Homo sapiens: one gene and its partners. The protein of the gene in region 3 interacts with the protein of the main gene of each other region in a biochemical or structural test. Each region holds a gene or a part of one and is shown on either strand. Other genes may lie near its edges.

Region 1 (8,586 bases), on a different chromosome or scaffold from region 3:
TCACTTGTACCAAGGCCACCATCATAAGCAGACCAGCGGTTTCCACATTTATTTGGTATTTTCCCTGATGAAGACAGAATTATACTTTATGTAATTTGAAATATATAGAAATAGAAGCTGACCCTGCACCCCTAATATATGTATATTTACTAACTGGCAAATTATATGCAGATACCTACTAATATGTATTATAAAACATAAAATAGAAATTTATAAAGGATGACATAAAGAGAAAATAGGCAGTTTTTAAATGTCTTACTAATTGTGATAGCTTCATATGATCATTTTACCTAACATCTCAAGGCACAATATACACTTAGGTAAGGTTTGTGATTAACTATAATAAAAACACGCATTTCAAGTAGGCTTTTTATTTATTCCACATTTCACTTGGACACAAGTGTAAGATTTGATCAAATTGTCTTTTTTAATCTCAAAGTGTGGCTAAAAAAGATCTCATACTAGGAAAACAAGAATGTCAGATCCACCATTTTCATGTGATTTGCTTGTGATTGTATTGTTAATATTAATAATACAACTTCCAACATACGACTTCTTAGCAGGAATCTTGTAAAGCCACTTTTTCTTTTTCTTTTTTTTTTTCTTCTTCTTCTTTTTTTTTTTTTTTTGAGATGGAGTTTCGCTCTTGTTGCCCAGGCTGGAGTGTAATGGTGCGATCTTGGCTCACCACAACCTCCGCCTCGCAAGTTCAAGCAATTCTCCTGCCTCAGTCTCCTGAGTAGCTGGGATTACAGGCATGCGCCACCACGCCCAGCTAATTTTGTATTTTTAGTAGAGATGGAGTTTCTCCATGTTGGTCAGGCTGGTCTCGAACTCCCAACCTCAGGTGATCCGCCTGCCTCAGCCTCCCAAAGTGCTGGAATTACAGGCGTGAGCCACCGCACCCGGCCACACTTGTTCATTTTTTGAGACTCGTTTTAGTTAAAACTCAATTGGATAATCCTTCAATCCATTTAATCAGATTAATGAAAAATGCAGTAGTCACAAAACACTGGTACCCAATGAATGAGTGCATTGTCAGATAAAAAATAAGAGAAACGGAAGTTCAATATTTTCTTCCTGCACCCAGTGGGTTGATTGCCTTGGGCACTTCTTTGTGTGTTAGCTCTTCCCTTTGGAAAACAGTCCCCAACATGGTCTGCAGCATGTCCTCACAGGTCTCACTGCTTCATTCTTGCCCCTACATATTCAATTTTCCACCTAGTAGCCAGAGCGCTCTTCTCCAAACACAAATCATATCAAGTCCCTCCCGTCCTCAAAACCTTCCCCTGGCTTCCTAACATTCTCAGTAGAATATCCAAGCTACCTCTGTGGTCTCCAGAGCCTCTCACTGGCCCCACTGCCTCCCTGGCCTTTCTCTCATCCCACCACCTGCTCACCACCACCCAGCCCCACTGCCCCACTGCCCTCCTTCCATTCCTCAAACTCTCTATGTTCCTTCCTGTCTGGGTGTTTCAAAGATGCCCCAATCACTTTTCCTCCCTGCTCTTTCCTGTCCCTATCTCACCCGCCATTGTTAAACTCCTGCTTACCCCTAAAATCTCAGTTTAAATCTCACTGCGTTAGGTTGTTGCTTATCCCTTAACACCTCAAGGCACAATATACATTTCAGTAAGGTTTGTGATGCAATATGTCACAAAATGCAATATGTGAATACATTAAAGTTTAAACAAAAATCTTAACCAGCTCACCCATTGTAGTCCCTTATCCTATGCTTCACTTTCCCCTTAAAATTCTTTTCAGACCGGGTGGTGGCTCATGCCTGTAATCCCAGCACTTTGGGAGGCTGAGGTGGGTGGATCACCTGAGGCCAGGAGTTCCAGACCAGCCTGGCCAACATGGCGAAACCCCATCTCTACCAAAAGTACAAAAAATTAGTGGGGTATGGTGGTGGGCACCTGTATTCCCAGCTACTCGGGAGACTGAGGCAAGAGAATTGCTTGAACCCGGGAGGTGGAGGCTGCAGTGAGCCAAGATCACGCTGTTGCACTCCAGCCTGGGCAACAAGAGCAAAACTCCGTCTCAAAAAACAAAACAAAACAAAACAAAAAAACCTCTTTTCGGAAAAAAAATTTTTTTCATATTATGTTCATCTGTATTATTATCTGTCTAATGTCTGATCCCCTACCTATTAGACTGGAAATTCCATTAGGGCAGGAATGGTGCCTGGTATATAGTAAGTGTTGTTGGATGAGTGAAATGAATGACTGGCATAAGGATGAAAGGTGTTATGAGCTGAGCTGTGTCCTCCCAAAAAGATATGTTGAGGTCCTGGCTGGGTGCAGTGGCTCACTTCTGTAATCCTAGCACTTTGGGAGGCCGAGGCAGGTGGATCACGAGGTCAGGAGATCGAGACCATCCTGGCTAACATGGTGAAACCCTGTCTCTACTAAAAATACAAAAAAAAAAAAATAGTCGGGTGTGGTGGCTGGCGCCTGTAGTCCCAGCTACTTGGGAGGCTGAGGCAGGAGAATGGCGGGAACCCAGGAGGTGGAGCTTGCAGTGAGCCAAGATCGCGCCACCGCACTCCAGCCTGGACGACAGAGCGAGACTCCATCTCAAAAAAAAAAAAAAAAAAGATATGTTAAGGTCCTCCTATCCCCCAGCATCCCCCAGAATGTGATCTTATTTGAAAATAGGGTCTTGTAGAAGTAAGCAAGTTAAAATAAAGTCATTAGGGTGGGCCCTAATCCAACATGACTGGTGTCCTTATAAAAGGGAAGTTTGGACACAGAGACAGCCATGCACAGAGGGAAGATGACGGGAAGACACACAGGAAGAACACCAAGAATTGCCAGCAAACATCAGAAACTAGAAGAGTCAAAGGATGATTCTCCCCTAGAGCCATGGGGGCTGGAGGGGAGCAAGTGCATGCCAACACTTTGATTTTGGACATCAAGCCTTCAGAACTGTGAGGCAATTTTTGGGTTTGATCCTTTGTTATGGCAGGCAGCCCTAGAAAACTCAACCAAAAGAGAAAATTGTTGTACATGAGGCAGTAATTGCTGAGGACTTTGATTGGAGAAGCCAAGGCACATAAAGGAAGTTGTAGCCAAAGCATATAAAGGAAGTTGTTCTGTTTCCAGGTGGAAACAGAATTACTTAGCAAGCAGAATTCAATGGTGTGGAGTATTGGATCAATCTCCCTAAACACATATTCAGGTAACCGACCTTCATTTTTTGTCCCCTTCTTCTTTCCAAATACCATATTCCACTGATCCTAGAGGCACATCTCACATCTCTGAAATCAGCCTGTTCACTGGTGTCCAGCAAGAGGAAGTGTAAAAAAGTTTCAAAAAAAATCACATGGAGAGACCATCACAGACAACTTCCGGTACACAATATTATATTAACAGTTTAAAAATATGCATATAAATGCATTTCTATCTATATATAACTTCTATCTATGATTATCTATCTATATATAATTCCTTTTTTTTTTGTTTTGTTTTTTTTTTTTTAGTAGAGACAGGGTTTCACTGTGTTAGCCAGGATGGTCTCGATCTCCTGACCTGGTGATTCGCCCGCCTCGGCCTCCCAAAGTGCTGGGATTACAGGCGTGAGCCACCGTGCCCGGCCTATCTATATATAATTCTATGTATTCTATCTATATAGCGATATATAATTTCTATCTGTAATGCAAATCTACATGTGATTTCTATCTATATATACATGTAGATAGAAAATTTAGGGAATTCACTGCAGGTGCTGCTTGCAGTCCACTTTTAAAACCTAACATTACATAATAAAACACTATTTTAAGAAGCTGCACTAGGCCGGGCTTGGTGGCTCACGCCTGTAATCCCAGCACTTTGGGAGGCCAAGTCGGGTGGATCACAAGGTCAGGAGTTTGAGACCAGCCTGGCCAACATGGTGAAACTCCGTCTTTACTAAAAATACAAAAATTAGTCTGGGGTGGTGGCGTGCGCCTGTAGTCCTATTCAGGAGGCTGAGGCAGGAGGATCGCTTGAACCCGGGAGGTGGAGGTTGCAGTGAGCCAAGATCGTGTCAATGCACTCCAGCCTAGGAGACAGAGCGAGACTCCGTTTCAAAAAAAAAAAAAAAAAAAAAAAAAAAAAAAAAGGAGCTGCACGATGCTCCCCTTGGGCGTGTACCATACCTTATTTAACCATTCCCAAACTGTTTCCATTTTTTCTGATGTTAAATAAACTCTAAGATGTACAGACGTCTTTTATCTGGCTCTCCGATTACCTTCTGCAGATAAACTCCTAGAAGTTACTGGGGCAAAGGGAGTGAACCTTTAATTTTTAATAAAATTTTTTAAATTACAGAAAAAGCCGTAGTCGTCAGATTCTACTTCCTAGGCGGTCCACAGGGATTTCAACAAGTTCGATTCAAACCATCCCAAATTCCCTCCCGGCACTAAGTTTTCCTCGGTCTTGGGAAACGTGGCCCCGCAGTCCGCACTCACGACTGCGCACAAACGCTGGCCTCTTTCCAATGGCGAAACTTCTCGACACGCCCCCGAGGCACCACCTCTTTAAAATTTAAAACGAAGGCCCAGGCCAATGAATGCTAAGCTTCTCTCGGACCACAGAGACCCGCCCACCGTCACTCCCTCCACCAATCAGACTGAAGTTTTCTCCACTGCCCCTCCAATCACCGCCAAAAATGGAAGTTGCTCTCGTAACTTACGTAAGGCAAGCAGCCAATAGGAGCAAACCTTGGAAACTAGCTCCCCCAATAGCAGCAGTTCCTGGAGAGCGCGGGAGCCTTTCGACCAGGGTCCCAAAGGAAAGCAGTGAGTGGTGCTGTTTCCCTGAAGGAAGGGACTAAGGGACGGTGGCGCGGGCCCGGACCGGGGCCCCGGGGCGGCGGCACGGCCGATATGGCATGCTGTCACAAAGTAATGCTGCTGCTGGACACCGCGGGCGGCGCCGCCCGCCACAGCCGGGTCCGGCGGGCCGCCCTGCGCCTCCTCACCTATCTGAGTTGCCGATTCGGCCTGGCCAGGGTCCACTGGGCCTTCAAGTTCTTTGACTCGCAGGGGGCGCGGAGCCGGCCGTCCCGCGTGTCTGACTTCCGCGAGCTGGGGTCCCGCTCGTGGGAGGACTTTGAGGAGGAGCTGGAGGCCAGGCTCGAGGATCGCGCCCACCTGCCCGGCCCGGCGCCCAGGGCCACCCACACGCACGGCGCCCTGATGGAGACGCTGCTAGACTACCAGTGGGACCGGCCCGAGATCACGTCGCCCACGAAGCCGATCCTGCGGAGCAGCGGGAGGAGACTGCTGGACGTGGAGAGCGAGGCCAAGGAGGCCGAGGCCGCGCTCGGGGGCTTGGTGAACGCCGTCTTCCTCCTGGCCCCCTGTCCGCACTCGCAGAGGGAGCTGCTGCAGTTCGTGTCTGGGTGCGAGGCCCAGGCCCAGCGCCTGCCGCCCACCCCTAAGCAGGTGATGGAGAAGTTGTTGCCCAAGAGAGTCCGGGAAGTCATGGTCGCCCGAAAAATCACCTTCTACTGGGTGGATACCACCGAATGGTCTAAGGTAAGGAAGGTTACTGTCGTCTCAGATGGCGTGCACGGTGCTTTCCTTGCTAACCAGAACTTGGCAGCGTCCTTAGAACAGCCACAGACCCCGAATGAGACTAATATGACTATGCGTCCCTTCGGAAGGAAACAAATAAATAGGAACAGTTTTCACAACAAAATGGGTAGTTCCTCACTACCTACTGTTTAAGACCCCTCACAATTTGGGCCCTACCTGCCTTCCCAGACTTGATTTTCCTACACACTACATCTACTCTAGCATATTGAAGTCCAGTCCAGAAAATCAACAGGTCTGGACTGCTTGTTTTGTGTTATGTGTGTTGTTCAATCTGCCTGGAATGCCAGTTCTCACTCTTCCAGGCCAGTCTTAACTTCACTTACCCTTTAAGGCTTCTTCTCCCAGTGACAACTGCTCAGTCCAGCGTCTGAATTGCCATACACATTTTGTGTGGCACTTAACCATTTCTCCATATGTTTTGATTATGCACATCTCTCACCCTCCATCTAGTCTAAAAATACCTCAGAGGCAAGCAGCAGGTTTTAACACAATACCCAGGGGTGTGTGTGTATGTGTGTGTGTATATATATATATATATATATATATATATATATATATATACACACACACACATATATATACACATTTATTTATATACATATATATATTTATTTATTATTATTTTTTGAGACAGTGTATGTCGCCCAGGCTGGAATGCAGTGGCTCACTGCAACCTCCACCCCTCCGGGTTCAAGCGATTCTCATGCCTCAGCCTCCCAAGTAGCTGAGACTACAGGCCCACGCCACCATGCCTGGCTAATTTTTTTGTATTTTCAGTGGAGACCAGGTTCCATGCTGCCCAGGCTGGTCTCAAACTCTGGCCTCAGGCAATCCGCCTGCCTTGGCCTCCCGAAGTGCCAGGATTATAGGTGTGAGCCACCACGCCCAGCCACCCAGATGTGTATTAAACGTTGTAGGTGTTCAGTCAGTATTGGCTGACTAAATGAGTACATTCTTGCGTACATTCTTGCAAACTTAAAGTCTTAAATGGCTAATTTGGATTTTTGCTGAGGCGGTGAGGCCCCCTGCTCCTGTTAAGTGCTAGGATAAGTATATACTTTTGCCTTCATCCTTCTCATTGCACTTCATTTAGTCAACAAATGTTCATTGAGAAGCCAGTAACATCTGAGTGCCTACCACACTGTTTGAGCTGCTGGGGACATGGTAACCAAAGCAGGGAACAGATTAAACAGATAAGCAAGTGACAATTTCAAATCATGCTCTGGAGAAAATAAAATGGGGTGAGAGGATGGGAGTAGAAGGTGGTTATTGTATACAGAGTGGTAGTGAGGGAAGGCCTTTTTTTTTTTTTTTTTTTTTTTTTTTGAGACAGAGTCTCGCTTTGTCACCCAGGCTGGAGTGCAGTGGCGTGATCTCGGCTCACTGCAACCTTCACCTCCTGGGTTCAAGCAATTCTCCTGCCTCAGCCTCCCAAGTAGCTGGGATTATAAGCGGGCGCCACCAGGCCTGGCTAATTTTTTTGTATTTTTAGTAGAGACGGAGTTTCACCATGCTACCCACCCTGGTCTCAAACTCCTGAGCTCAGGCAGTCCGCCAACCTCAGCCTCCCAAAGTGCTAGGATTACAGGCATGAGCCACCGTGCCTGGCAGGGAAGGCCTTTTTGAGCAGAGAATTGAATGGTGAAGGAGGAGGAACTCAAAGGTAGGTAAAGAACATTCCAGGTGAGGAGACAAGCAGGTGTAAGGATTTCAGCTGGAAATGAACTTAGTTTGTTTCAGAAACAAAAAGGCAAGGAGTGCTGAGACCTAGTAGGCAAGGGGAGCAGTGTGAGAGAAAGTCAGAAAGCAGGAGAGGCCGATCTGTAGGGCCAAGGTCAAAAATGTGGATTTTGTTCTAATTAATTAATGGGAAGGCTTTGGAATGTGGTTTAACCAAGTGAAAGATGTGATTCCACTTAATGGAAATACATGTCACTAACCCAGGAGTGAGTTAAATTGCAAGATTACAGATGGAAAATGAGCAAGCATTTAAATAATAATATGGTATGTTAAAATTTTCAAAGTGCTTTCACATGCGAAGCCCAAAAAAGGCGTGGCAAATGCAAAATAAGGCAGCAGTGGTTTGTCAAGAAAAGGAAGGGACAAAAAGTGTTTAAGGGGATGGTAAACATTTGATGGGGAAAATGAAATCCTAGATATATTAAAATTTAAGGCAGCCAGTCAAGCCTTAGACACAGTATACAACACATTGCTCAGCTGGAAACAATTGATATCACATCAAAGACTTTCTTCTGGAATTTTATTATGTTAAATACTGGCTAGAAATAAGTTAGATGGGGCTTGATGGATCTTGGAGATTCTTTGTCTCTCTTTTTTTCTCTTTAATCTCTCTCTCTCTTTTTTTTTTTGAATAGCATTGAAATAAGTGGGTTGACTGGATCTTTTTAAAGATCCCTTCCAGGTCTGATGTACCGTCGACTGAGGGGATGGGTCATCTCTGAGGCTTCCCTTCTTACATCGGCTGTATCCCCTAAGAAAATGCCCATCAGATACTCAAGTTTTTCTGGAATTTTCTTCTGCTGAAGATCTATCATTTTCTATTCAAAAACCTGCCCAGCCATGCTGGGCAAAAGGAAGGTTTGGGCTGTGTCCTTGGGGAGTGCTCTGTCCAGGAGCAGGGAGAAGGGAGGAAGAGAAAATCCAGGTCCTGCCTTGGGGAGCGTGCAGTCTGGGAAGTAGAACTGGGAGAAACAGAACCTGCACTTACATTGGAGGCAGAGGGATCCAAGCGCATAAAACAGGATATCATATTTGCAAAGATATAGGACAGAATGGAGGATAAGAGACCTCTGACACATTTTCAACTTTATGCCTTAGATTTATTCAATACATATTTGTTCCATACCTGCCAGGTATGCTAAGGAATCAAATAGATGTGGTCCCTGCCCTCTTGGAGCTTATAGTCTAGTGGACATTTACAGATCCCCAAATTTGAAACTACCACTAGGACATGTCTGTCACTTATCCTATAATACGCATAC
Region 2 (8,194 bases), on a different chromosome or scaffold from region 3:
TTGGGAGGCCGAGGCGGGTTGATTGCTTGAGCTCTGGAGGTGGAGACTAGCCTGGGCAACATGGTGAAACCCTGTCTCTAACAAAAATACAAAAATTAGCTGGATGTGGTGGTGGTGTGCGCCTGTGGTCCCAGCTGCTTGGAGTTGGGGTGGGGTATTGGGGTGGGAGGATTGCTTGAGCCGAGGAAGCAGAGGTTGCAGTGAGCCAAGATCACACCACTGCACTCCAGCCTGGGTGACAGAGTGAGACCCCATCCCAAAAAAAAAAAAAAGAATGGGAAACCATTGAAGGTTATAAGGAAGGAAGTGACGTGATCTGGAAAAGATTCCTTTGCTCTTTGGAGAATAGATTGTAGAATGAATGTGGAAGTAAGCAGGTTTGGTGAAGGAAGTTTGGCTATGAAGGGAAGGAGGGTGGGATTTGATTGTGTTACGAGCCAAGGGGAAAATCTTTCCCTTTGCCCTCTGAAGATCTGCTGAAAAATCAGCTCACAAAAGGCAGGTTAACTGGAGAAAAGGCATACAAATTTATTAACATGCACATTGGGAGAACCATAAAGTGATTACCCATCTCCCTACAGAGTTCGTGAGTTTATATACCATCTGGCAAAACAGATTATGGGAGGGGTGTCTCACGTGTGTCCATGTGAAGAGACCACCAAACAGGCTTTGTCTGAGCAACAAGGCTGTTTATTTCACCTGGGTGCAGACAGGCTGAGTCTGAAAAAAAGGAGTCAGCAAAGGGTGGTGGAATTATCATTAGTTCTTATAGGTTTTGGGATAGGCATTGGAGTTAAGAGCAATGTTTTGGGGGCAGGGGGTGGATCTCACAAAGTACATTCTCAAGGGTGGGGAGATTATAAAGAACCTTCTTAAGGGTGGGGGGGAGATTACCAAGTACATTGATCAGTTAGCGTGGGGCAGAAACAAATCACAGTGGTGGAATGTGATCAGTTAAGGCTATTTTCACTTCTTTTGTAGATCTTCAGTTGCTTCAGGCCATCTGGATGTATAAGTGCAGGTTACTGAGGATATGATGGCTTAGCTTGGGCTCAGAGGCCTGACAAGGGGTAGAAGAGAAATTCTGTTTTTCTGTTTTTGTAGAGACGGGGTCTTGCTATGTTGCAAGCCTAATCTCGAACTCCTGGGCTCAAGTAATCCTCCTGCCTTGGCCTCCCAAAGTGCTGGGATTACAGGCCTGAGCCAGCATGTCCAGCTCTATTTGTTTTTAAATAAACCGAACTTTGGCCAGAAGGAGATTCTGTTGAAGGGCAATAAAGGATTACTAGAGAGAATGGAATGGGGACAGAGGTTGACTTGTTAATAGTTCTCTTTGGAATTTGAGTGATCCTGAGGTACACAATACCTGTGAAAGGGTTTGTTCAGGTGTGGTTACATGTTAGTCTTATTGGGAGGGGAAGAAAAAACAAGTATTCTTTTTAGTGAGTTTGGACTTTAGGCAGATAAAGAGTTCCAGAGAACAACTTTATCCTGGCTTTGGGAGAGTCTGGGGTGGAAGGATCAGAGAGACCTTGCGGCTTCTTGAGTTCAGCATGTCAGAGGGCCATATTTTGGGGTATTGGTTTCTTTTCTTTTCTTTTTTTTTGAGACAGAGTCTTGCTCTGTCTTTGTTGCCCAGGCTGTGCAGTGGCATGATCTCAGCTCACTGCAAGCTCTGCCTCCTGGGTTCAAGCGAGCACGTCTGGCTAATTTTTTTGGATTTTTAGTAGAGATGGGGTTTCGCCATGTTGGCCAGGCTGGTCTCGAACTCCTGGCCTCAAGTGATCTGCCTGCCTTAGCCTCCCGCAGTGTTGGGATTACAGGCATGAGCCACCGTGCCTGGCCTGGGGTATTAGTTTCTGAGTTCCAACAGTTAGACGGGATTGGAGGAGCAGGACCCTGAAGAGGAGGAGGGTAAGACAGTGCAAATGGAGGTAGATTTGAAGTTGGTTTTTTTTTTTCTGAAGGAGGAGGCAAGCTCTTTTGATGAAAATGAGGTGGTAAAGTCAAAGGTTTGGGGGGAGAGTTTGATACAGAGGCTTAGCAGGGACTGCATTTTATCACAGTATAAGAATGCTGGTCGTGGATTTGAAAGAACAAGTCGCTTAATCTCCATAAACCTCAATTTCCTTATAACTAAGGTGGAGGTGATACTAGTACATACCTCATAGAGTCACCAGGAGATTGAGAGATCCGGTAAAGCTCTTCATGGGGTCTGACATAGAGTAGGCACTCACAAAATATCAACTAATTTTAGCTGTTAGAGAAAAGGCGGCCATTATAACAGTTAGGGAGCAGTGAAAATCAACCAGGCACATTTTCTCATTGTTGATGGTCAGCCACCTATGGTTTACTAGATTAGGAATAAAAATAGCTAATCTCTGTTCTCCCACTGATTTGCCATCTGTTCTCAGACAGATCTTTTGTCCCTCTGATCCTTGGTTTCTTCTAGGATAAAATGAAGGTTTTGGACTTAATGACTACTACAGGCTGTTTCAGTGTAACCATGCTACATCTCTAAGAGGCAGAGAAACCGCCTACCCCCATTCTCCCAGACACACCTAAACAACCCCTATCCACACACACAGTCACAGTAAGCATCAGAGATACACAAATGCTCCCAAACAGGAGGCTTTCATCCTTGACCCATCCCAGCCCTGGCCTCACAGTCTTTGCATGTCTCCAGGGCTGTAACGCCGGCCCCCTTGAGGCCACTTGCTCAGCTATACTAGTTGTATCTCAGTGCTGCAGCCAGCCAAGAGTAAACCCGTGAGCATCTTGAGAGTGCTTGAGAGAAGCTGGACCCCATGTGAATGGTGGATGAGAGGGAGATAGCTATCACCCTTGGAAGGCCTCAAAATTTGGCCTCATTGTGACTGACTGCTTTGGCTGGGTCTTTTTGTTTCAGGCCATCATGAGGAAGCCACGAGCAGCCGTGGGAAGTGGTCACAGGAAGCAGGCAGCCAGCCAGGAAGGGAGGCAGAAGCATGCTAAGAACAACAGTCAGGCCAAGCCTTCTGCCTGTGATGGTAAGGAACTAGGTTGTGGCCCAAGGCTCATTGGCCATGAAAGGCAGATTCAGGCTGGGAAGGGATTGTGATACGTATCAAGACATTAAGAGACTTACTAAGGGCCAGGTGCGGTGGCTCACACCTGTAATCCCAGCACTTTGGGAGGCCGAGGCAGGTGGATCCCTTGAGCCCAGGAGTTTGAGACCAGCTTGGGTAACATGGCGAAATCCCCTCTCTATGCTCGCGTGGTGGTGAGCGTCTGTAGTCCCAGCTACTCGGGAAGCTGAGGTGACAGGATCGCTTGAGCCTGGAAGGCAGAAGTTGCACTGAGTCAAGATAATGCAACTGCATTTCAGTCTGGGCAACAGAGCCAGACTCTTGTCTCAAAACAAAAGAGACTCACTGAGGGTGTAATTCTGACTGTATTGCTGTGTGACATTGGGACAATTGCTCTGAATGGCTGCTTTCTTACCAGTAAAATGGAGCAGTAGTTCAGCATTTCCTCCCTCATGTGGCTTTCATGGGACCAAATGAGTTTATGAGCCTGAAAGTGTTTTGTGAATAGGAAGGTCCTGCACCAGTATACATTCTAGCTGGCTAAAACTATTAGGTTTTCATTATGGCTCAGAGACAAGCCAGTAGTACCACCCTGAGAAAATTAAGGCCAGAAACTTAGCCACAGCTACACACAATTACATAACTCTGGTCTGACTCCAGCTCCAAAGCTTAAGGGGGTTAGTTGGGGGAAGCCCTAAGTGGGAGCATACTGCCACAGGCTGCTGTGTCCCAAGACCCTGATGCACAGCCTGTGCAGGGATGATTGCTGAGTGTCCTGGGGCCCCAGCAGGCCTGGCCAGGCAGCCGGAAGAGGTGGTATTGCAGGCCTCTGTCTCCTCATACCATCTATTCAGAGACGTAGCTGAAGTCACAGCCTTCCGAGGGAGCCTGCTAAGCTGGTACGACCAAGAGAAACGGGACCTACCATGGAGAAGACGGGTAGGCAGGCGAGGAGCAGGGACAGTGGGTGGGAGGCAGGCACCCAGCCCCCTCCACCCTAACTCCTCATCTGGGGTTGCATTGACAGGCAGAAGATGAGATGGACCTGGACAGGCGGGCATATGCTGGTCAGTACATCTCCTGAGAGCAGGGCCACTTTGCCTCGAGGCCCTTGGGTCTGGGGGCTGTGGGCCAGGTAGGGGCAGGTCAGCAGTGTCCTCATGCCAACCCCTTTCCCCCAGTGTGGGTCTCAGAGGTCATGCTGCAGCAGACCCAGGTTGCCACTGTGATCAACTACTATACCGGATGGATGCAGGTGACTCCAGGGGAGGAAGGGAAGGGTCATGGGTCAGACCCCAGATGAGAGCCTCTACTTTGGGGTGGGTGTAGAGAAGGCTTCCTCTACCACCTTCACCCTTGACCTTGTCTCTTTCTGCCTGCCTGTGGCTATAGAAGTGGCCTACACTGCAGGACCTGGCCAGTGCTTCCCTGGAGGTGAGAGCCACCCTAGGGTAGGGGAAATAGGAACAATAGAGGGACTGACGGGTGATCTCTTTGACCTCTGATCCTACCCACAGGAGGTGAATCAACTCTGGGCTGGCCTGGGCTACTATTCTCGTGGCCGGCGGCTGCAGGAGGGAGCTCGGAAGGTAAGGGGATGGCAGGAGGGTAGGAACCCAGGAGTCTTGGGTGTCTTATAATCTTGAGTCTTGCACTCCAATCAGGTGGTAGAGGAGCTAGGGGGCCACATGCCACGTACAGCAGAGACCCTGCAGCAGCTCCTGCCTGGCGTGGGGCGCTACACAGCTGGGGCCATTGCCTCTATCGCCTTTGGCCAGGTGATCTCACAGCCCACCCCCACTTTGTGCGTGCCCAGCCTCCTTCCTCCCAGCCCAGGCTAACTCTTTGGCCCCTCTGTGCCAGGCAACCGGTGTGGTGGATGGCAACGTAGCACGGGTGCTGTGCCGTGTCCGAGCCATTGGTGCTGATCCCAGCAGCACCCTTGTTTCCCAGCAGCTCTGGTAGGATGTTGGGGTAACAAGGGTGCTTCAGGGGTGTCTGCAAAGGAGCTCTGCTTCACAGCAGTGTTCCCTTCTTTTAGGGGTCTAGCCCAGCAGCTGGTGGACCCAGCCCGGCCAGGAGATTTCAACCAAGCAGCCATGGAGCTAGGGGCCACAGTGTGTACCCCACAGCGCCCACTGTGCAGCCAGTGCCCTGTGGAGAGCCTGTGCCGGGCACGCCAGAGAGTAAGCCTACTGGGGAAGGGGCAGTGAGAAGTCCTAAGGAGTGACTCTGCCCTATGACACTCAACCCTGTGCCTCTCAGGTGGAGCAGGAACAGCTCTTAGCCTCAGGGAGCCTGTCGGGCAGTCCTGACGTGGAGGAGTGTGGTGAGCACCAAACCTAGCCCCCACCCCAACCCTTCCTGGCCCAGTCAGAAGCCCCATTCCAGTTCTTCCTCTAACCTGAGTAAGATTCTGCAGAACCCGGCCAAAGCCCACTCTCTAGGTTGGCCCCTAAAGCCCTCTTGGCTTGAGTAGGGTTCGGGGATCTCCGTTCCCAGCTCCCAACACTGGACAGTGCCACCTGTGCCTGCCTCCCTCGGAGCCCTGGGACCAGACCCTGGGAGTGGTCAACTTCCCCAGAAAGGCCAGCCGCAAGCCCCCCAGGGAGGAGAGCTCTGCCACCTGTGTTCTGGAACAGCCTGGGGCCCTTGGGGCCCAAATTCTGCTGGTGCAGAGGCCCAACTCAGGTACCTGGATACTGGGCGTGGAGGGCAGTGGCATGAGTAACAAGAGAGAATGGAGGGAATCGGCAGCTGAGGCCTGACCCCTGCCTGGCTGCCCTCCCTCTCAGGTCTGCTGGCAGGACTGTGGGAGTTCCCGTCCGTGACCTGGGAGCCCTCAGAGCAGCTTCAGCGCAAGGCCCTGCTGCAGGAACTACAGCGTTGGGCTGGGCCCCTCCCAGCCACGCACCTCCGGCACCTTGGGGAGGTAAGTGAGCAGCGGAATAGCCAAGGATGTTGGCTTTTGAGGCTATATCCACAGGCCTATTTGAACCCCTTGACCCTTCCTCCAGGTTGTCCACACCTTCTCTCACATCAAGCTGACATATCAAGTATATGGGCTGGCCTTGGAAGGGCAGACCCCAGTGACCACCGTACCACCAGGTGCTCGCTGGCTGACGCAGGAGGAATTTCACACCGCAGCTGTTTCCACCGCCATGAAAAAGGCACTACCTTTGTTGTCTTTGTTGTACTTCCTTGTGTTTCCTACATGTTCTACATGAATATATTACTGTGTAAACAGGAAAAAAAGCATTTTTTTTTGAGACGGAGAATCGCTCTGTTGCCCAGGCTGGAGTGCAATGGCGCTATCTCGGTTGACTGCAACCTCCATCTCCCGGGTTCAAGTGATTCTCCTGCCTCAGCTTCCTGAGTAGCTCGGATTACAGGCGCCCGCCACCATGCCTGGCTAATTTTTGTATTTTTAGTAGAGATGAGGTTTCACCATGCTGGCCAGGCTGGTCTCCAACTCTTGACCTCAAGTGATCCGCCCGCCTCAGCCTCCCAGAATGCTGGGATTACAGGTGTGAGCTACCACACCCAGCCATGATTTTTTGTATTTTTAGAGATGGGGTTTCACCATGTTGGCCAGGCTGGTCTCAAACTCCTGGCCTCAAGTGATCCACCCGACTTGGCCTCCCAAAATGCTGGGATTATAGGCGTGAGCCACCATGCCTGGCCAAAAAAGCATATTTTAAACAAAAGTACTGGGACATGAAGTTAAGGGCAGAACACCGGTTTATCTCTTTTGCAAAAAGTGCCAGCCCTCACCTCCCTGTCTTCTTGTCTAGGTTTTCCGTGTGTATCAGGGCCAACAGCCAGGGACCTGTATGGTAAGTCTCCTAGGCCTCTCCCAACCGTGTCTCCCCAGGCCTGAGTCCATAGGTTTTTAGTCAGTTAACTAACGAATGTCTGGGTGAACATTCTCCACTCCAGGCTTCACTGGAGGGAGGAATAGTTCTTGACCTGGAGACCTTCCATTGTGGGGTGCAGGGTAGAGGGAAAGGAAAAAAATGATGAGGACTCTCCAGTGTCACAGGTGTGTGAAATGCCTGTACTGAGTTTTGTGGGATATGAATTGTGGAGCCATCAGTTCTTTTTTTTTTTTTTTTTTTTTTTTGAGACAGTCTCACTGTCACCCAAGCTAGAGTGCAGTGGCCCGATCTCGGCTCACTGCAATCTCCCACAACTGGATTAAAGCGATTCTCCTGCCTCAGTCTCCCAAGTAGCTGGGATTACAGGTGCCTGCTACCACACCCAACTAATTTTTGTATTTTTAGTAGAGACAGGGTTTCACCATGTTGACTAGGCTGGTCTCGAACTCCTGACCTCAAGTGATCTGCCCATCTTGGCCTCCCAAAGTGCTGGGATTACAGGCGTGAGCCACCACACCCATCCATGGGAGCTATCAGTTCTAATTGGGAGACGGATCAGGAAAGGCTGTTTGGAGGAAGCAGCTGGTAATCTTCGTCCTAGAAATGAATCCTTTTCTTCAGGTTTGGGAGGGGAATCAACCGTAGCGATGTTCTTTCCAGTCCCAAGAGTAGTGTGAGCAAAGGTGGAGCCCAGTGCAGGCTGCAGTGCTCAAGGAGCTGTGAGCAGTTGGTTTAGCTGGAAAGGTCAGCAGGGCCTGCTGGGTCAGTCAGGGTGTGAGCCCTAGGCTGCTGACTCATTTTAGGTGGAGGAGAGAGGAGTCAGATTTGCATTTTTAGGACAATTCGATTCCCTCAGGCAGCCTTTTGGAGGGTTGATTGATGGGGCAGATACTTGAGGCAGGATGAAAGCTCTACAGCATTCCAGGCTAAGCCTAGCTAGATCAGTAGAGTCGGGGAAAGGGAGAGAGGACAAGGAGAGGATTCTCTGCTCCCCCTCCCCCAACTACAAGGCCTCCCTCCTTCCATTTTTTCACAGGGTTCCAAAAGGTCCCAGGTGTCCTCTCCGTGCAGTCGGAAAAAGCCCCGCATGGGCCAGCAAGTCCTGGATAATTTCTTTCGGTCTCACATCTCCACTGATGCACACAGCCTCAACAGTGCAGCCCAGTGACACCTCTGAAAGCCCCCATTCCCTGAGAATCCTGTTGTTAGTAAAGTGCTTATTTTTGTAGTTATTTTATGTTGTATTTT
Region 3 (8,194 bases):
GCCTCCCAAGCAGCTGGGATTACAGGGGCCTGCCACAACGCCCAGCTAATTTTTTTTGTATTTTTAGTAGAGACAGGGTTTCACCATGTTGGCCAGGCTGGTCTCCAACTCCTGACCTCAGGTATCTGCCCACCTTGGCCTCCCAAAAGTGCTGGGATTACAGGCATGAGCCACCAAGCCCAGCTCCAATTTCCCTTCTTAACAATAAGGTAGGGTTAAATTTTTGCTACTCTGTGAAAATTAGTGCACAGCCAAGTCATTCTACAAATAGGAATACATTAAGTATTCCAATCTAAGACAGCGGAAAAAGTATAGCATATGCTGTTTCCATCAACAAACTTATAAGACAGTTATTCATATACTAAAAAACTAAATAACCCAAGAAATACCAAACAAAGCAGTGGCTCTAATGGTGAGGAATACAGACTTTGGAGTAGATAACTGGCCACTTAATGTCTCTCTGTGTGACTCTGAACAAGAATTTTAATTCTCTAAGTCTTACCCTCAAGATAATATCCATTTTAGAGTTATTTGTGGGACTTAAATGCGATTTTATATATATATTAACACACATAAAATGATTAGCACAGTGTCTAATACACTGTAAACACTTGGATGATAGTTTAAAGTCCAAACCTGGGCAACATAGTGAGACCTTGTCTCTACAAAAAAATTTTAAAAATTAGCCAGGTGTAGTGGCACATGCCTGTAGTTCTAACTGCTCGGGAGACTGAGGGGTGGCTGATGCCCAGGAGTTCAAGGTTACAGGAAGTTATGATTGTGCCACTGCATCCCAGCCTGGGCAACAGAGTGAGACCCTAACTCAAAAAAATTAAAAAAAAAAAATCCAATAAGTTGTTCAGAAACTAAGTGCTCTCGAAATATAGCAGATGAAAAGATTAATGTAGTTAGGAGGGTTCAGAGAAGAGTTAAAACCTGAAATGAACTTTTAAAAGATAACAGAGGAAGATACCTTGCAGGCAGAGGGACTCTCGCAGCCAAAGGATGGACATGGTCTAGTAAGTGCATCTACTTAGCTAGAGTGGAGGGTTTACATAGATAGTAAGGAGCAAGCCCAACTCTGAAGGGTCTTCAAAGTCAGGCTAGGAAATGCTAATGTATATCATCTACTGCATGTATTATATAATAAAGACGTACCCGACAACCATCTAATAAATCTTCAGGTGCTTGAAATGCACTGACATCCAGATTTTCTAGATTTTCAAGTGTAGGCTCCAGTTTGCTGTTAAGTGAATTACATATTGATTCACTTACGCAACTTGCATTTATGTTGGAAATATTGCTGACATCTGAAAGAGTACGACCTACATATTTTGAAAACGTATAAATTTATGGGAGATAAAATAATCATGATTACATATTGTCTATGGATTAACTTTTCTTACAAATATAGGGCAATAAACAACTTCCAAAGTAAGATTCAGGGGTGTTTACTGAAATCTTAGTGGCAAAGTATAAAAAGGGAAAATGAAATTAATTAAGCCTCCTATCTTATTTAAATGAAAATAGATTTAACACATTTTCTTAATAGTGTCTTGTTTCCCATAAAAATCTGAAGTTGCTGACTTTAAGGTCCAAGAAGCTTACATTTGAAAAAATATTTTAAACATTTTGCCAACACGACACCTACAAAATAGAAATGGTTTTAATTTTTATACAAATACAGATGATCTATAACTGCAGCAAAACTGTAAATTAAGGAAAGATTAATATATGCATGTAATGTTTAAAAGATTAATACTTTTATCTTAAGCCCCCAGCTACCATTGTTCTTAATTTCTTTGATCATCTTTTGCATTACAACAGAGTATAAAAGACAGCATTCATTCATTCTAAAAGAAAATTACGAACAGTTCAGTGCTAACTTTTTATACAATTTGACTATTATACAATTATGCCTAGAAGCACAGCAAACAAGAAAAAGAAATTCCCTATCTCAGTGATCCTATTAACATACTGATTATTACATAGAAATATGACTGTCTTCAGAATAATTATTTTAATCTCAATGAGACTCACTATCAATTGTGTTGATCTGGCTGGTAGGAGTTGAAGAATTGGGCATAGTCTTTGCTTCTGGTCTAGGTTCTGTCTTGTATATGGATTCATCCTGACAAAAACCTTTCTCAATACTGTCAAAAAACCACTGTGTGGTCACACAGTGTACATTCCATCTCTTGGCACACTCATACTTCTGACCTGTGGCGTTCATTAAGAAAGAAATAGAGAAAATAGGAGAAACCAAGAAATGAAAACCATTACAATCTATCTTTGCAGAAATATTCAAATTATAACAGGTTAATATTTTTTTTTTTTTTTTGAGATGGAGTCTCACTCTGTTGCCCAGGCTGGAGTACAGTGGTGAGATCTTGGCTCACTGCAACCTCCACCTCCCTCCTGATCAAGCGATTCTCCTGCCTCAGCCTCCTGAATAGCTAGGATTACAGACGTGTGCCACCATGTCTGGCTAATTTTTTTGTATTTTTAGTAGACACGGGGTTTCACCATGTTGGCTAGGCTGGTCTCAAACTCCTGACCTCAGGTGATTCGCCTGCCTTGGCCTCCCAAAATGCTGGGATTACAAGCGTGAGCAACCGCGCCCGGCTATAACAGGTTATTTCAAAAACCTATCAACAAAATTAAAGTTACCAGTACTTACTCTTAAACAGTATGCTACACAGTTTATTACAAAGTAGTATTTTAGCTTATTGCCTAATTATATTTTCTATGTGTAGTATAAATACATATGCCATGTGAGAGGTTTTATCTTTTATACAAACTGCAGGAAGACAGAAGCAACTGTGGGGTAACTTAATTAATATTGGACTTGGGTTTGCATATAGGCTCCATCACTTAATTTCTTTAAACCAGCTTGTACAATGTGAAAATTGTAAATTTGTGCTATATAATAAATCCCAACTTTGAACAGACTATTCCAATGTCAACAGGCTTCTACTTAAAGTCCAGGATAGATAAGCCAAAAGATAAATTATATTGAAAATATGTATCTTTTATTACCTTAAAAATCTTCAACACAATGTATTTTGAAGCAGTATCACAGAGGAATTGAGGTCAATATGTCACATGAAAGGTTTTTTGGCATTCTTGAGAGAATCAACAATGAACTGTCTTCAGATTCAGAAAAAGAACAGCAGTATCAACTCTACTCACAGTGATCCTATCACAATCAGCCATACTCAAAGTTCTGACTTAAGGACAATTACCATTTAATCGTAATTTCTTCTCAATCTAGATAGCTTAGTAAAACACAGTATACATATAAAGGGCAATAATAAAAACATTAACAAAACTCATCTTTTATCAATTTGTGTATATTTTAAGAGTGCTGATAAAAAATTATCCAGAATAATGTTATGTAACACCAAACTTAATAGCAATTTTAAAGAATTTTTCTTGTTCGTAATGTCTTTTTCATTTTTTACTGCCTCATGTGCCGCAAGGTGTGTCTTCCAGTTAAAACTTTGCAAGATGTTAGAGAAAACATCTTTGCAAGATGTTAGAGAAAACAGTATCAAACTAGATTAATGACATGTCAGAAGTAAAAGCTGTTCTGTAAAGATTTTAAAATATTAAATATTAGTGGCTGGGCACGGTGGCTCATGCCTGTAATCCCAGGACTTTGGGAGGTTGAGGTGGGAAGATCAATTGAGGTCAGTTAGAGACCAGTCTGGCCAACATGGTGAAAGCCCGTCTCTACTAAAAATAAAAAGTTATTCAGGCGTGGTGGCAGGTGCCTGTAATCCCGCTACTCGGGAAGCTGAGTTGGGAGAATCGCTTGATCAAGGGAGGCAGAGGTTGCAGTGAGCTGAGATTGTGCCACTGCCCTCCAGCCTGGGCAATAGAGCAAGACTCTGTCTCAAAATAAATAAATAAATAAATAAAAATAAAATATTAAATACTAGAGAAAATGTTTCATTTGTCCCTTTGTGAAACACAGTTTTACCTTTTGGTTCTTGCACAATGAGGTGTGTACATTCATTCATTTTCAATTGTCCCATGTATTGACCTCCATGCTTAACTGTGAGTTGCTGAACTTCTTTCCTGTCTAAGCCACATAAGCCAGTCACACAGATTATGCAACCAAGAAAAATAGGACACTTGAAATCTTCCATGTTTATATCAGTATATCTAGTTATTTTTCTGTGGGAATCAAATGGTTAAAAAAGAACATATTAAATTTACCAGAAGAATAATGAAAAACAACACAAATATCACTATTGCTTCCCTCATTTTTTAGGATTTATAATCTTTTTTTTACAAAGGAGAACCACCAAAACAGAATTACACTAATTGTTCACCTAGTTCAATAACATGTCTCTAAAACAAAGTAATTGTTTCAGATACAGTCTCTCAAAACCATTTTAAGGGAAAAATATATATTTCCTTAACTCTAGCCCTTGCTGGTCATAGTATATTTTCCAAAATGATAAGTCTGAATCTCTACTTAAAAACCCAAAGGTAATTTGGTTGCCTATTAGATAAATGAACTTTTTAATCTTTCCATTATTCTATACAAGTAAAAGCAATGATTTTTGGCAAAATACCAACAAAAATATCATTATTCTGTTGCCATGCTAGGGAGGTGTGCTGATGAAGTAATCACATTGGGAATGAGAGTTGCTGACATGGAGACATATTTGGGATATGCTGGATGGTGTTGAAAACAAGCCCAGAAAAGTGCCGATATAATTCGTATGCCAATACAATTCTGTGGTGTTTGGTCTTGTGGTTGTTTATCTAGTTGCAGGGGAAACTGAAGTGTGCCCCTTGAAATAGGCTCTAAGCTCCATGAGGGAAGTGACTATCTTGTTTTGCTTACTACATATACCTAATGCCTACCTCAAGTCAGATACGTAAAATGGGCTCAATTAGCATTTATTAAATGATCACATCTCAGCTGATGACTTGCATATGTTTATATTCAACCTTACATATGCCATCTTTTGGAAGGAATGCAACTGCCAAAATGACTAATTTATTATCTATCTTAACATATGGGAATGGTGTTGAAGGATAATGCAACATAAAAGCTACAGAATTGCCAAACTCGTTTTCTCAATTATTTCAGAAATATTTACAGCTGAGAACTTTATCACCAAAGCATTTCCTACTCTGTAGCTAATGCTAAACCCTTGGCCCATTCTATGCCTGTCAACTTATATCTTGGTAATAAGAGCTTGTAGATTCTGCTCTTCCGTTTTCGCTGGAGAAAAGAGTAATGACACTATTTTTTTCCCTGAATAGTAAGTCCAAAGAGTATATCACATGCCAAAAATGATTGAATGCATCATTTTTTCAAATCTAGAAAATATAAAAATGTCTTTCTTACTTCTCTTGTGACTTCTCCCAAAGTGTTTTTATCCAAGAGGGAAGCAAAATAGGTTTCTTCAGGTTTGCAGCAACTAAATATTTTTTGCTACCAACTTCTCCTGCAATAAGGTGAGTTACTGATACATTAAGGTCTCTGTATACTCGTCCGCCCATCATTTGTACATATTTATGAACTTCTTCCTGCAGCCCCAAAAGAGAACACATTAATGCTGAAGCAAACAATATTGCTTCCACTTTTATACACTATCTCATAAATACATTTTGCTGTTGACAGTTTGAATACATAAGTGTTACATAACATTATAAAGTTAAATAATTAACCAAATTATTTTTTGGGAGATAAGTATGAATTATATTTTTAAAATATTATTTTCCTATATTTATCCCTTTCAACTCCATGAATGTATTAAACTATTATACAAAGGATGTATAAATCTTAATCTTTGCTTCTATATAAATATACATGTGTATTTTTAACAACATAAATTATATCTATATAATATATAAATATTTATTTTTAGCCAGGCTTGGTGGTGCATGCCTGTAATTCCAGCTACTCGGGAGGCTGAGGCATGAAGATTACTTGAGCCCAGGAAATCAAGGTTGCAGTGAGTTGTGATTGTGCCACTGCACTCCAGCGTGGGTGACAGTAAGACCCTGTCCCAAATATATATATGTATTTCTATAGCTCTCTCTTAGAATGCTTTTTTTTTTTTTTTTCCAAAACGAAATCTTGCTCTGTCACCCAGGCTGCAGTGCAGTGGCGTGATGTTGGCTCACTGCAACCTCCACCTCCCTGATTCAAACGATTTAGAATCCTTTTTTTTAAAGACTGTCCACCTATAGTGGAAAAATGTAAGTGATTAAAAAATGAGTGTCCTTTTAAATTAAAACAAAAAATTTCAATTAGCCAGTTTTCAACAAAACAAATTCTACTATATTCAATTTACTTAAAAAATGTACATGTATACATATATACACACTGTGGTTGTATACTGAACTTTGTTAAAAGTCACGAACAATAAGCGGAAAGTCTTTTAAGCTATCTTCTATGCAGTGAAAAATTAAGAATAAGAGATAGATATATAAATTGATCAATCATCATGAGATCAATATCTACCCTTTTTTCTTTTTCCAGACTTGTACAAGATATGGTTACATCAGACATAACCATATTATAAACTGGATGTTCGGCTCTTGGGACACATCGCTGGTGGTGCATACAAAATATGACTACTTGAGGACCAACAATTCTGCAGCCAAGCTACAAAAAAGAGAAAAGTTTAAATGAGTTAAGAAGGAAAAGACCACCAGTCTTACAAAATTACATTTTGTAACATTCACCAATTCTTTACCAAAGTTGATGACCACTGTAGAGAAATCAGCAAATCATTACAAGAAAAAAATAAAGATGACTATATAATTTCTCAGAGATACTATACATTAAACACTCACACACAAAAGCAAATCAAACAATGCAAGCTATCAAAAGAAATAAACTTCAGGCCAGGCACAGTGGCTCACGCCTGTAATGCCAGCACTTCAGAGGAGGCCGAGCGGGGGTGGATCACCTGAGGTCAGGAGTTCGAGACCAGCCTGGCCAACATGGTGAAACCCCGTCTCTACTAAAAATACAAAAATTAGTCGGGTGCAGTGGCGGGCACCTGCAGTCCCAGTCTCTAGGGAGGCTGAGGCAAGAGAATTGCTTGAACCCAGGAGGCGGAGGTTGCAGTGAGCTGAGATCACGTCACTGCACTCCAGCCTGGGCGACAGAGTGAGACCCTATAACAAAAGAAAAAAAAAAAGAAAAGAAAAGAAATAAACTTCAAAAGCCCCTTTCACTGAAAACTGCCTTACTGCTTACATCTATAAGCCCAATATTTTGGGAGGCTGAGGTGGGAGGATCACTTGAGTGCAGGAGTTCAAGACCAGCCCAGCCTGGCCAACATCGAGAAACCCTTTCTCTACTAAAAATAAAAAAATCAGCCGGGTGTGTATATACATCTGTAATCCCAGCTACTCAGGAGGCTAAGGCACAAGAATCACTTGAACCAAGGAAGCAGAAGTTGCAGTGGGCTGAGCTTGTGCCACTGCACTAAAGCCTGGGCAACAGAACAAGACTCTGTCTCCAAAAAACAAAAACAAAAACAAACAAACAAACAAAAAAAGCCTACTGTAACATAATTAGCCTTTCAATCCTGGTCTTGCCAAACCAAAAGAATTCCAATGTACTCATAAGTTGCATAGTACTTTATAATCCGCAAAGAATGTATGTCCATTAAAGCAAAGATAAACCAAAAAATAGACTACCAAAGGTACACACTAGAAGTCAGCAAACCTTTTTGAGGTGATCAAAGACAACGCCACTAAAAGGGTCACAGATATAAAGTGATCTATCATTCTCCTTTATCTTCAATGCCTCTTCTTCTGTAATAATCTGAAGATATTCTTCTGATTGGAATTCTTTTATGGACTGAAAGAAAAAATAAAATAAGAATGTACCTGAAATTACTCTCCTGTATTTAGGTCCTATTCAAATTCCATCTCAAATCCAGCCTTTTCCCTATTGAAAGCCACCATCACATCTCACTTAGACCTCTGCAGAAGGCTCCCAAGTGGTCTCTTTTTCCCTTCCTTGCCCTAAATCTGTTCTCTACACAGCAGCTAATAATCTTTTCAAAAACACAAGTCAGATCATGTCACTATCTGCTCAAAACCTAATGTCTTCACACCACACCCAGAATAAAATCCACATTTCTTACTACAGCCTTCAAGACAACACAGTCTGGTTTCCTGCCTATCTTTCCACCTTTACCTCCTA
Region 4 (4,927 bases), on a different chromosome or scaffold from region 3:
CTGGAGCTTCTGCTGCTTCCCGGCTTTCAGCACCGTGCAGGGGTGCCTTGCCACCCACGGCAACCCTCCAGTGCCTGCTGGCCGACAGCGCCCACCCCAGCTGGCTAAGCCCCCTACCTGCATCCCGCAAGCAGCAAATACCCAGTTCACAGGCCCCCCCGGGGGCTTTCCTTGGCCAGTGCTGGGGCCATTTACTGTCCCTTCCACATGTTGCCGGCGCCCCTCACGTGCGCTCAGGCAGAGAGGGCTGCCGCCTCCATGCTTGCCCTTTTCTCCGCAGAAATGGAGGTGGAGCCCGCCCGGAAAGGGGAAGAGGAGCAAAAGGAGCAAGAGGAGCAAGAGGAGGAGGGCGCAGGGCCAGCTGAGGTCAAGGAGGAGGGTTCCCAGCTGGAGAACGGAGAGGCCCCCGAGGAGAACGAGAATGAGGAGTCAGCGGGCACAGACTCGGGGCAGGAGCTCGGCTCCGAGGCCCGGGGCCTGCGCTCAGGCACCTACGGCGACCGCACGGAGTCCAAGGCCTACGGCTCCGTCATCCACAAGTGCGAGGTGAGGGAGACTATGGCCAGCCCTCCCAGCCAGCGTCCCTCCCCTCCGGCCTCCCACCGGCTGCTCCTCACACCCCGCTTCCCCGCTGCACCCACAGGACTGTGGGAAGGAGTTCACGCACACGGGGAACTTCAAGCGGCACATCCGCATCCACACGGGGGAGAAGCCCTTCTCGTGCCGGGAGTGCAGCAAGGCCTTTTCCGACCCGGCCGCGTGCAAGGCCCATGAGAAGACGCACAGGTACTGCCCCAAGCCGGCCTCCTACCCCGGCCCCTGCCAGGCCCGGCCTTTCACGCCCCAGCGAGCCCTGCCTCCTGTCGCCTTCTGGCCCTGCAGCCCTCTGAAGCCCTACGGCTGCGAGGAGTGCGGGAAGAGCTACCGCCTCATCAGCCTGCTGAACCTGCACAAGAAGCGGCACTCGGGCGAGGCGCGCTACCGCTGCGAGGACTGCGGCAAGCTCTTCACCACCTCGGGCAACCTCAAGCGCCACCAGCTGGTGCACAGCGGCGAGAAGCCCTACCAGTGCGACTACTGCGGCCGCTCCTTCTCCGACCCCACTTCCAAGATGCGCCACCTGGAGACCCACGACACGGACAAGGAGCACAAGTGCCCACACTGCGACAAGAAGTTCAACCAGGTGTGCGGACCCCTCCCGGAACCAGCGCCTGGCAGCCGCCGGTGGCCGCAGCCGCATGCATGCCACGTGGTGGGGCGGGCGGGGAGCACAGCCCCGGCCTCCAGGAGCTCATCAGCTTGTTCACCCAGGAAACAGGCGCAGCGAGAGCCACTTCCGCGGGGGAGCTCCCGGTTGCTCTGCGGAGGGCAGGCCGACTCAGGGCGGGGTTTGGTCCTGAAAAAATGGGGTGGGGCGGCTTACCTCTCACCGCTGGGACCTGGGACCTCTCCTGACCCAGGAGAGATAGAGCCCTTCACGGACCCTGGCAAGCCTGAGAGTCAATTGTTCCTTTGTGGGAGGGGCAGGTGAGGGGGCCCGGGGCCGAGCTCTGTGGGGTGGCCCCCCTGACCCCTCCCTGGGCACAGGTAGGGAACCTGAAGGCCCACCTGAAGATCCACATCGCTGACGGGCCCCTCAAGTGCCGAGAGTGTGGGAAGCAGTTCACCACCTCAGGTAGGGCCAGGGCTGCCCTGGCTGCCCTCACACCCCTGCTCCTCGGCCACCGGTGGTGCCCCACGCCAGGTTCGCCCTCGGTCTCGCCACAGGGAACCTGAAGCGGCACCTTCGGATCCACAGCGGGGAGAAGCCCTACGTGTGCATCCACTGCCAGCGACAGTTTGCAGACCCCGGCGCTCTGCAGCGGCACGTCCGCATTCACACAGGTGGGTGGTGAGCGGCCATGCCCAGGACTGGGAGGGCACGGAGAGGAGCAGGCACCAACACCTTCTGCCCGGTCCCCAGGTGAGAAGCCATGCCAGTGTGTGATGTGCGGTAAGGCCTTCACCCAGGCCAGCTCCCTCATCGCCCACGTGCGCCAGCACACCGGGGAGAAGCCCTACGTCTGCGAGCGCTGCGGCAAGAGGTCCTGCCCCCTCCCCCACACCCACTGGCCAGACACCCCACAGTGAGGGGGCTCAGAAGACAAACTGGGGGCTTGGCTGGGGACTGAGCTGACTGCTGCCCACGCCCCAGGCTCTGGTCCTAGGGGTCCTTTTCAGTCTAGAGGGTGAGGCAGGAGGCCCAGGTTGGGGCAGTTCCATGCGAGTCCCTTCCTGTGGCCCCACAGATTCGTCCAGTCCAGCCAGTTGGCCAATCATATTCGCCACCACGACAACATCCGCCCACACAAGTGCAGCGTGTGCAGCAAGGCCTTCGTGAACGTGGGGGACCTGTCCAAGCACATCATCATTCACACTGGTGAGCTGTGGCCCCTACCATGCCTGTTCCTTCCCAGGCCCTGCTGCCAGGTGGGGAGCAGGGGGAAGGAAGGGACCCCCCAGACCCCAGCCTCGGGTGCTAGCTCTTGCTGCAGGTGGCCTTGAAGGCAGTTCTGTTCAAATGAGGACCCCATTTTCCTAGAGCTTCCAGAGGTGCCAGTGTCACCAGAGGCACCCGTGCAGCCACCCCAGAGCACCTCCTGCTGTAAAAGACAGGGTTGCTGGGCAAACGAGTCATTGAGGGCCTCCCACCCCATCCCTGCGGCCCCTTCCCACAAAGGCAAGAGAGAACCTTGCTCCCCCAGGAGAGAAGCCTTACCTGTGTGATAAGTGTGGGCGTGGCTTCAACCGGGTAGACAACCTGCGCTCCCACGTGAAGACCGTGCACCAGGGCAAGGCAGGCATCAAGATCCTGGAGCCCGAGGAGGGCAGTGAGGTCAGCGTGGTCACTGTGGATGACATGGTCACGCTGGCTACCGAGGCACTGGCAGCGACAGCCGTCACTCAGCTCACAGGTGCGGGCTGTGGGCAGCAGAGGGAAGTCACAGGCAGCTTGCTGCCAGGGTGGCGATGATGGGGCAGTGCCCGTGCCTTCACCTTAGGCCCTGCGACTCTGCCCGCAGTGGTGCCGGTGGGAGCTGCAGTGACAGCCGATGAGACGGAAGTCCTGAAGGCCGAGATCAGCAAAGCTGTGAAGCAAGTGCAGGAAGAAGGTGAGGGGGGCCACCCGGGTGTGAATGTGGGCAGAGCCCGGGGTCCTTCCCACTCTGACTGCTGCCCCACCTCCACAGACCCCAACACTCACATCCTCTACGCCTGTGACTCCTGTGGGGACAAGTTTCTGGATGCCAACAGCCTGGCTCAGCATGTGCGAATCCACACAGCCCAGGCACTGGTCATGTTCCAGACAGACGCGGACTTCTATCAGCAGTATGGGCCAGGTGGCACGTGGCCTGCCGGGCAGGTGCTGCAGGCTGGGGAGCTGGTCTTCCGCCCTCGCGACGGGGCTGAGGGCCAGCCCGCACTGGCAGAGACCTCCCCTACAGCTCCTGAATGTCCCCCGCCTGCCGAGTGAGCTGGCGGCCCTTCTGACTGTTTATTTAAGGATGGATGGCACCCTGGAACCGGGAAGGGTGGCCTGTTCCCTAGAGAGAATAAATTGGATTATTTTCTAATGCTGCCTATAGGTCCCTGTGGGGTGGGTGGGGAGCTGGCAGCTACAACTGATGCCACAGAAAGGCTGTACCACCCAGGAACCAGCCTTCCTGGGAAGGTCAGCCCGTCCCTCTTGCTGAATGCGACTAGAATCAGAGCCAGGCTGGCTGCTTTGCCCCAAGTTGAGGAGTGGGCAGTACACTCAGGCTGGAGAGACCTCGGCACCACGTGCCCCATGCCCTCATCCCATCTTGTTTGGAGGCTTCTCACCTGTTCATCTTTAGGGCCTGGCCTCCCCTCGCCCCACAGCTATGACCCTGCTCCCCCTCGGCCCAGGTTGGGGAGAGGTTGGGAAGTTGGGGAAGGGACCAGCAGGGGCGGCCACCAACTGCTTACCAGGGTACAGGCAACCCAGAGCGAGCCTGGCTCACAGGCCACTGCTGCCAGGCCTGGCTCAGGGGTCCTTCCAGCCAGAGTGGCAAGGTAGGCCAAGGAGAGTGCCAGGCCCAGGCCACTGCCCTGGCTCTGATGGGCCTAAGGGAGCAGATGGAAGCCACACTTGCTTCAGGGTTACCTGGCCCGAGGACTAAGGCCAAGCCGGTGCCATCATCTTTTGGGAAGGTTCAAAAGATGGCATCTCTGCCACCAGGCTGGGGGCCCAGAGGGACAGGAAGGAGCAGCCAGGGGCTTTGATGGGGAGGTAGGGAGCTGGTGGAACAGCTTTCTCACTCCTGTCAGCAAGGAGTCAGGAGGTACCATCTCGTCCCCCCACAGTGGCCCCGGCATCTATGGCCCACCGTTCAGAGGGGGATGCTATCTTCTCACACCAGGACAGGCCCATTTGTAGGAGCCCATTGGTATTCCAAGTGAGACCACCAACTTTATAGTCCCCATGTCCCTGTCCCAACTCCACAGCTTCTAGAGAATCCAGCTGCAGGGGAAGCCTGTCCCCAACTCCCATTCTCCTGTCTGGAGGCAGAGACGGGATCAAATGAGCCCCCAGGGGCCCCAGGAGGCCACTGCCTCTGCAGGAGTCAGCCTGCTTCACACTGGGAGAAGGGAAGAGGGGGCAAGAGAGAGACAAGAAACCAAAGCTTGCTAAAATGTTTCTGAGATGGCATGGGGTGTGGTTATATTCTGTATCAAAATTGGAAGTGCCTTCCTTCCACATTACCTAAGAACCAGTTAGGACTCTGAAGACACCACAAGAGTGAGAAATGGTTAAGTTCAGTGTCCGTGACAAAAATCTCCTTTGTACAAGATAAAATTATCCTTGGGGAGGAGGACTGACTGACTAGGAGGCAGAAGGGAAACAGTTCCCATGTACAGACTT

What was found.
Region 1: the proteins of TOPBP1 (region 3) and TICRR form a complex in vitro, tested with the Homo sapiens proteins (2 studies listed by BioGRID).
Region 2: the proteins of TOPBP1 (region 3) and MUTYH form a complex in vitro, tested with the Homo sapiens proteins (one study listed by BioGRID).
Region 4: the proteins of TOPBP1 (region 3) and ZBTB17 form a complex in vitro, tested with the Homo sapiens proteins (one study listed by BioGRID).

Annotation. Positions count from the first base shown.
Region 1 is NC_000015.10:89,570,717-89,579,302, forward strand, and holds the start of TICRR (treslin), read left to right. Parts: upstream 1-4,752; 5' UTR 4,753-4,870; coding exon 4,871-5,524; intron 5,525-8,586.
Region 2 is NC_000001.11:45,329,226-45,337,419, reverse strand, and holds the end of MUTYH (adenine DNA glycosylase), read left to right. Parts: intron 1-2,452; exon of another isoform or gene 2,453-2,593; intron 2,594-2,908; coding exon of another isoform or gene 2,909-2,914; coding exon 2,915-3,029; intron 3,030-3,786; exon of another isoform or gene 3,787-3,816; coding exon of another isoform or gene 3,817-3,858; coding exon 3,859-4,007; intron 4,008-4,095; coding exon 4,096-4,135; intron 4,136-4,249; coding exon 4,250-4,323; intron 4,324-4,460; coding exon 4,461-4,502; intron 4,503-4,585; coding exon 4,586-4,657; intron 4,658-4,732; coding exon 4,733-4,846; intron 4,847-4,931; coding exon 4,932-5,029; intron 5,030-5,109; coding exon 5,110-5,254; intron 5,255-5,333; coding exon 5,334-5,397; intron 5,398-5,570; coding exon 5,571-5,759; intron 5,760-5,863; coding exon 5,864-6,000; intron 6,001-6,085; coding exon 6,086-6,238; intron 6,239-6,862; coding exon 6,863-6,904; intron 6,905-7,351; coding exon of another isoform or gene 7,352-7,354; exon of another isoform or gene 7,355-7,531; intron 7,532-7,982; coding exon 7,983-8,114; 3' UTR 8,115-8,178; downstream 8,179-8,194. UniProt on the Homo sapiens protein: Involved in oxidative DNA damage repair. Initiates repair of A*oxoG to C*G by removing the inappropriately paired adenine base from the DNA backbone. Possesses both adenine and 2-OH-A DNA glycosylase activities.
Region 3 is NC_000003.12:133,651,305-133,659,498, forward strand, and holds part of TOPBP1 (DNA topoisomerase 2-binding protein 1), read right to left. Parts: intron 7,847-8,194; coding exon 7,712-7,846; intron 6,638-7,711; coding exon 6,494-6,637; intron 5,554-6,493; coding exon 5,372-5,553; intron 4,183-5,371; coding exon 3,986-4,182; intron 2,221-3,985; coding exon 2,041-2,220; intron 1,326-2,040; coding exon 1,159-1,325; intron 1-1,158. UniProt on the Homo sapiens protein: Scaffold protein that acts as a key protein-protein adapter in DNA replication and DNA repair. Composed of multiple BRCT domains, which specifically recognize and bind phosphorylated proteins, bringing proteins together into functional combinations.
Region 4 is NC_000001.11:15,940,556-15,945,482, reverse strand, and holds the end of ZBTB17 (zinc finger and BTB domain-containing protein 17), read left to right. Parts: intron 1-280; coding exon 281-546; intron 547-643; coding exon 644-786; intron 787-882; coding exon 883-1,183; intron 1,184-1,587; coding exon 1,588-1,675; intron 1,676-1,767; coding exon 1,768-1,884; intron 1,885-1,963; coding exon 1,964-2,084; intron 2,085-2,288; coding exon 2,289-2,419; intron 2,420-2,744; coding exon 2,745-2,954; intron 2,955-3,041; coding exon of another isoform or gene 3,042-3,062; coding exon 3,063-3,152; intron 3,153-3,230; coding exon 3,231-3,514; 3' UTR 3,515-3,614; downstream 3,615-4,927. UniProt on the Homo sapiens protein: Transcription factor that can function as an activator or repressor depending on its binding partners, and by targeting negative regulators of cell cycle progression.